Homo sapiens: one gene and its partner. The protein of the gene in region 2 purifies or fractionates together with the protein of the main gene of each other region. This does not show direct contact. Each region holds a gene or a part of one and is shown on either strand. Other genes may lie near its edges.

Region 1 (3,656 bases), about 180 Mb from region 2:
GCAATATAGTGAGACCTTGTTTCTATTAAAAAAAGAAAAAAAGAAATAATACCTAACCATCTCATCTGCCACGGGGCTCCAGCCTTCTTTGTCTCTTTCAAGCCTTGTCTCACCCAGAACACTTCTCTATAGAGAATGGAATGAATCAGTTACTTACGATGAAAGAGATAGATTATAAAAACTGTAGTATTTGGCCATTTTGTATTTGTGCCTCAGAGGTCAAATTAAAACTGCTTAATTTTGGAAATTTGTATGTACATAAATGTGCATAAAGGATCATTTTAACCCTATAGATAGTTATCCTGGAGCCTAAGATGAAGTTTCTGAATTTTTTAGGGAAACATTAATTTGTATTGTTTGTGTTTTTCTTCTTAGTTTCTGCCACTGCCTTCTACAAAGCACAACCTGTAATTCAGTTCATGTGTGAAGTTCTTGATATTCATAATATTGATGAGCAACCAAGACCTCTGACTGATTCTCATCGGGTAAAATTCACCAAAGAGATAAAAGGTGAATTAATTAGCATTTAGCACAACTTAACTATAAAATGCATGGATATAACAACCTTTTATTAAAATGTTTTCTTATATAATTAAAATCTATGTAACATAACCAGTAAAACTATACATCAATTATAAAATAAAATATTACATTAAATTCATTACTATAACATCTTAGGTGGTATTTGAAAGAAATGCCAAGTAATGGAGTTAGTATCACTACCAGCTAATTTTTTGTTAATACTTTCCCTTACTAGCTGAAGGGATAAGAATGTCTCATGGGAAAATGCTTTAGTAATACTGTTAAAAGTAGGAAGCTCACTCCAAAAATATTTGTTATATTTTATAACTAGAATTATAGAACTAGAACATATTCTAATATAATGACTTCCTTATTTTTCTGAAATGATAGTTATTTATTTTAGTCCTTTAAAAACGTATAAATGTGGGGCTAGCCTGTTTCATGTGTTGTTCTAGAATTATAGTTATTTAATATAAGTTATAGAGTTGACTGTTGATCTTATCTATTATACTTAGTAACTAAAATTTGTACAGTGCTGTTGCATCATATGTACATTTAACTCAGATAAATTCATCTCTATGTGGCTGCCCAAAAATAAAAATAAAAATAATTTTAATAGTGTTCTGAAATCTGTATTTTATATGTATTTAGTCTGATACTCCCTAATCAGAATGAATAGGATAAGTTCTATTTATATTGTTAGATCTTAAATAGCCAGAAATAATTATGTTGTTTTTAAGATTTTACCTATTTATTGCAGATAATTTTCAGCTTGTGGTTTGAATGAAGCATTTAAGTTTGTTCACTGAACATCTTTCAGTTCCCCCAAATCAATTAGAGTAGTTTAATACATTCTGCTTGCTCCAGTAATAATTCATTCTTCGCCATTCAGTAACCAAGAGAGAGATAGTCATTGTAATAAAATATTAAAAGGAAGATCCACCCTGCTTTGAAAATAAGCATCCATTTATCTCAAGTTATTTAAATGCCAAAGTAAGAAACTGTTTATGTAACTGTTTTGCAACCATACCATTGTCCTTTCATGATCTGTATTAACTGCACAGCTAGCATTGTCAGGAGGTTAGTGCATTACCTACCATTAATATGTGATCATCTAAATGCCATGGTTTCCAGTGGAGTTGCTGCTTAGTTACCACCTCTGATATCATGAAGTCACTTACATTATTTTGCGGTAACTATGCAATCAACTCATATCACCACTCTATCACAGAAAATACAAGATGTACAGAACAAGGATTCAACTGCTGCCCGAAGAGCATGGACTCGATCTTAACTTCAACTGCTCAGGGGCCCAAAGAAATGACTGAAAAAATGACTAGAAAGCATAATAAAGTTGATGTTATAGTGAAGGTAAAGCCAAGTTTATAGGTTAAATATTTATTAAAGCCAAAAGTGTTTTTTTGGTTGGATGGAGGGTTTGGGGAGGGACCTGGGCAGAGAATTATCTAGTCCACTTTTTAAAAATTTCAACTTTTTGCTAGCACCTAGATTTTGGTCTAATTCTTAGGTATTTATGATCCTAGTTTGGGGGTGGAAAAATCTGGGTGGGATCCAATTGACAAACTGATTATTTTTTTCTTCATTCCAAGTAAAATAGGGCTTTTTTTTTTTTTAAAGAAGGCTCTTTAAAGTACATCATGTATTCCTACTACAGTAACCCAAGAGAATAAGAGTTTTGTGTTCTCTCCTGTATCTATGGGTTTTTTAGCTGGTATGAAGAATTTGATGCTAGCTGTTAAATAATGACACAAAGTGTGCAATAAAGAATAGATTTTCTTAGTATATTCATCTTTTTCCAGTTGAACTTGTACCTAAATATTTAATAATAACTTTGGAGTGGTTTCTTTATCCAGTAACTCGTGATAGTTAAACAGCAGAAATACTGGGAAAATGTATAAGTACCATATATATATATCTATATATGTGCCAACTTATTTTTAGTAAAAGCTTTATAGGCTTGGAGAACCTTATTAATATTTTTTTAATTCAAGGGGAAGAGTTGAAAATAAATTGCTAAGTGGTGCAAATAACAGAAATTTGTTTTAGACTTTTCTATTGTGTTCTCCCCTGAACATAATATTTTTACGTCTTGTTTCTTCATATTATTAGTATTTCCTTCTTTTAAGATCCTCCTTCGATAGTATTTTATTTTCTAGTCTCCTTTATAATATAAAGACATAGTAATTCTCTAGTTGATCTGACATTTTTGTCTTATAAAGGTAGTTGTAATGAAAAATTACTACTCACTGATTCAAGGAGGAGCACTTCCAAAGAAAAACAAACCCATACCAATCTGGTACAGGGATGGATACCGTGTCCATTTAACATCTTAATTTGTTCTGATCTATCAGAAGAAAATATCATTTATATGATTGAGCTTTGTGTTTGGTACTAATTTTCTTACCTAATTGCAGGTAGCAGTTAGGTAAGAAAATAAATTTTACCATAGCAGGCATTCTCAACCTTAGCAGCATTGACATTTTGGGCTGGATAATTCTTTGTTGGGATAGGGGTAGGGCTGTTCTCTGCATTACAGGATATTTCATACTATCCCTGGCCTCTACTCAATAGAAAGCAGTAGCATCTCTAGTCATGCCTATCAGTTTGTCTCCAGACATTGCCAAATGTCCCCTGGGGGACAGATTGCCCTCTGGCTAAGAACCACTGCAGTATAGGAATCACAAATATGAAAGAGAAATATGACAAAGAGTAATAACCATAAGTATTATCAGGGAACTAAAAGTTGTTCTCCATCTACCCCATTTTGGACTTTATCCCTTGGAGTCTAGGCCAAACTTTAGAAAGGAGTTGCTTATCTGTGACCTCTGTGTACCTGTTAACTCTTCTCTAGGCTAAGACTGCACTAACCACATGTAGCTACTTAAATTTAAATTAATTAAAATAAAGGCCGGGCGTGGTGGCTCACGCCTGTAATCTCAACACTTTGGGAGGCCAAGGTGGGTGGTTCACCTGAGGTCTGGAGTTCAAGACCAGCCTGGCCAACATGGCGAAACCCCATCTCTACTAAAAATATAAAAATTAACTGGGCATAGTGGCGGGTACTGTAATCCCAGCTACTTGGGAGGCTGAGGCAGGAGAATCACATTAACCCT
Region 2 (3,656 bases):
TCACACAAGATGAAAAATTTCTAGAGATGTGCTGTACAATATTGTGCCTATGGATGAAATTGGAGGTCATTATGTTAAGTGAAATAAGCCAAGTACAGAGAGACAAATATGTTCTCACTCATATGTGGGAGTTAAAAAAGCGATCTCATGAAGATAGAGAGTAGATTGGTGGTTAACAAAGGCTAGAAAGGGTTAGTAGGAAGGGGAGGATGAAGAGAGATTGATTAATGAGTATAAACATACACTTAGAAGGAAAAAGACCTCGTGTTCAATAGATCACTGAGGTGACTATAGTTAACTAATCAATTGTACATTTCAAAATAGCTAGAATAATTTTAATGTTGCTAGTATAATGAAAAGATCAATATGTAAAGTGATAGATATCCCAATTGCCTTAATTTGATTATATGAATGTATCAAATTAACACATATACCCCCAAAATATGCACTAATAGATCTAATACATATCATAAAATTAAATAAAAAATAAGACGTGAAAAAATAAAAAAATAAAATTGCCACCTTACCACCACTAAAATCTACTCCCTCCCCACCAAAAATACTGTACTGCACACTTAAAAATTTGTTAAAAGGGTGTATCTGATGTGTGCTTTTTACCACAATGAAAAAAAATTCAACAGATAGGTTAACAGGGTTATATACAGCTGAAGAAAGATCTAAACATATATGGTAACTATAGTATAGGTTATACTACAGATTGGAGTACAGATAAACAGTGAAATAGGAGGAAAAAAATAAATGACAGGTTAAACATGAAGGATAGAATGATAAATTTTCGCACATCTAACCAGAGTGCCAGAAATACTATGCAGAACAGAGGTAAGGTAACATTCAAAGACATAATGGTTGGTACATTCCCATAACTGATGAGACATATGAATCCACACAAGATAGAGACAGACAGAAAGGATCACACACCAAATAGCAGATGACTCCTGAACAGAAACAATGTATATCAATAGACAATGGAATACTACCTTCTGAGTGGTGAAAGAAATCAAACTATCAACCTAGAGTTACAGACTAAGCAAAGCTATCGTTTAAGAATTAGGGCAAAATATGTCTTCAGATCTAAAAAAGTTCATCACTAACAATCCTGCACCAAAAGAACTTCCACAGATATTCATCAGGAAAAGAGAAAATGACACCCAAAGGAAACAATGAGATGGAAGAGGAAAAATAATAACAATAATAATAACTTTAAAATCATGTGTCTAATTCTATATGAACTGGATTTTTATAAAAAAAAAAGACGTAATAATAGCATGTAGGTCAGAAGTGAAGTGACAAACATTAAATACATTTCTTCTTCCAATGTATTGCCCTGCACACCCACTTTAGAGACCACTGATGTGTACTATATACATCCACCACTGTTCAGCTACAACAAACAACAATATTAGCTGCAATCATTTCAGAAGTCTTGTTAAAACAATGAGACAAGCCATAAAGGATTTGTAAATTTGATATGAAGGGACAAGTGCAAGGCACTCCACACAGAAAACAGTAAAGGTTCAGAAGTAGGGATAGGGACGGCATACCCTGTTCTTCCTCTAATAAAGTATCTTATACCATTTCATATGCTCTTCTAAAATCTATTTTTTTTTTTAAAAAAAAGGGTTCACACTCTGTCACCCGGGCTGGAGTGCAGCGGTGTGATCTTGGCTCACTGTAGCCTTTATCTCCTCGGCTCAAGCAACCCTCCCACCTCAGCCTCTCTAGTAGCTGTGAATGACTACAGGCACACACCACCATGCCCAGCTTATTTTTGTATTTTTAGTGGAGACAGGGTTTCTCCATGTTGCCCATGCTGGTCTCGAATTCCTGGATTCAAGCAATCCTCCCACCCCGGCCCCACAAAGTGCTGGGATTAGAGGCATGAGCCACTCTTCTAAACTCTTTAAGACACAAACAAAACAAAAGAAAACAAAAAAACACTTTCTCGAAGTAACAGCATGAGTACAGTAATAGTGGAAGGTGTCAGATTTTCATTATTCACCTTGAAGGATAGAATTATTAACCTTGGGTAGGTCACTAAATTTTCTCTCTGAAGGCTTCATTCAGCCTCTCAGGTTGTAATACGTAATGTCTACCCTCACCAATGTCACCAATATATTTTGATGATAAATGAAAAAATTCAAAGGGGGTGTTACAGCACTGATTTCTTATATACTGTACTAGTCACTGTGCTGGGCACTGGCAACACAGACTAAGGGAGACAAAGTCAGGCAATTAGATGCTATGTGATAGGTACTGTGACATGTGAAGGATGCACAGAAAATCCAAGGATAGTGACAAAGGTATGCTTTCCTCTCGCTTCTTCATGCCATTAACAATGATTCTCAAAAGACAAACTACTGATGGCAACCTTAGTTACAATAGGTAATCATTATAATCACCGCCATGAATTTCAGTATGTCACAAGACTCAACATCGAGTCTTTTTTTATTAAAGGCTTTTTAGTCTAACTGAATTCAATTTTAAAACATTCCAAGAAGTAGTCAAAAGAGTTTTCTTCATACTGATCAAAATTTCATCACAGAAAGCTAGGCTGAGCATTTTTGACCCATTAATAATTAGCATAATCGGAGTTTTTCCCAAATACTAAATTTTTTTTCTTGTTTCATTAAAAAACATGTAAGAGTAATGATAATATATTATCTATATCCATGGTGGAATTATCCAAATAAAATCTAACAAAAGAAAAAAAGAGAAATCTTTTTTACTCTTTTTCTGGACTTACTGTTTATAATCTAAAATCAAACACATTTTGCATAGATTCTATTATCTGCAACACATTTTTTTTACTTTACTACAAAGTGTTTATTGCCTTAAAAGTTAATCATTGGTTGTCCTGTTGTATTTAGCCCGTTGAGGCCTATTAACAAGGCACACACAAATCTTTCATCAAAGAAAATACTCCTGAAAAAGTACACATAGACTGTTCTTAGAGAAAAGCAATTCTTTCTCATTCTACTATATATAGCAGTAGTATATAAGAGATCAGTGCTATAATATTCCTCTTTTGGGATTTTTATTTATCCTGAATATATATTAGTGACACTGAGAAGGGTAGATATTATATATTCCCAAGGACACAAAATCCAAATACGTTATATGGATGACCAAAGAAATGTTTATATTAACTGCAAACGACAACGAAATATCAAGATGGTGTTTTAAATTACTGTATTTGTTGATTTTAATTTCTAAGGAAAATAAAATGTTTTTAGTTAGTGTCCTTGATATACCAAAGGACTTAGAACCCTTTAATAGTCATATGAATATAAAAGTTTTGTAACTATTTTTAAAAATATGTCATGTAATTGAAAATGACTATAAACAAAAATACATTTTGGCTGCCATACTGGCATTAATATATTAGCTAACAAGCAGGCTTGTTACTTTATTTCATCGATGAGAAGTAAAAATGGATGATGCCATTTACTACCAACTAGAGAATAAAGAGAGTCACCAATGGTGATTTCGTAGCCATCAGTGGTGGCCTCTTTGATAAACACCTATAACACCTATAAACCAATTTAGCCCTATTTACACAATGTCTTCTACCATACATTACTTGTTTGGGATTATTATCTCTTCTGTAAGCTCCTTGCAGGGAGAGACTTTATCTT

The links. The genes of interacting proteins can lie anywhere in the genome.
Region 1: the proteins of MARK1 (region 2) and AGO3 purify together in Homo sapiens (affinity purification with mass spectrometry, with the first as the bait; one large-scale study listed by BioGRID). This does not show direct contact.

The regions. Positions count from the first base shown.
Region 1 is NC_000001.11:36,003,966-36,007,621, forward strand, and holds part of AGO3 (protein argonaute-3), read left to right. Parts: intron 1-375; coding exon 376-510; intron 511-516; exon of another isoform or gene 517-1,893; intron 1,894-3,656.
Region 2 is NC_000001.11:220,530,987-220,534,642, reverse strand, and holds part of MARK1 (serine/threonine-protein kinase MARK1), read right to left. Parts: intron 1-3,656. UniProt on the Homo sapiens protein: Serine/threonine-protein kinase. Involved in cell polarity and microtubule dynamics regulation. Phosphorylates DCX, MAP2 and MAP4. Phosphorylates the microtubule-associated protein MAPT/TAU.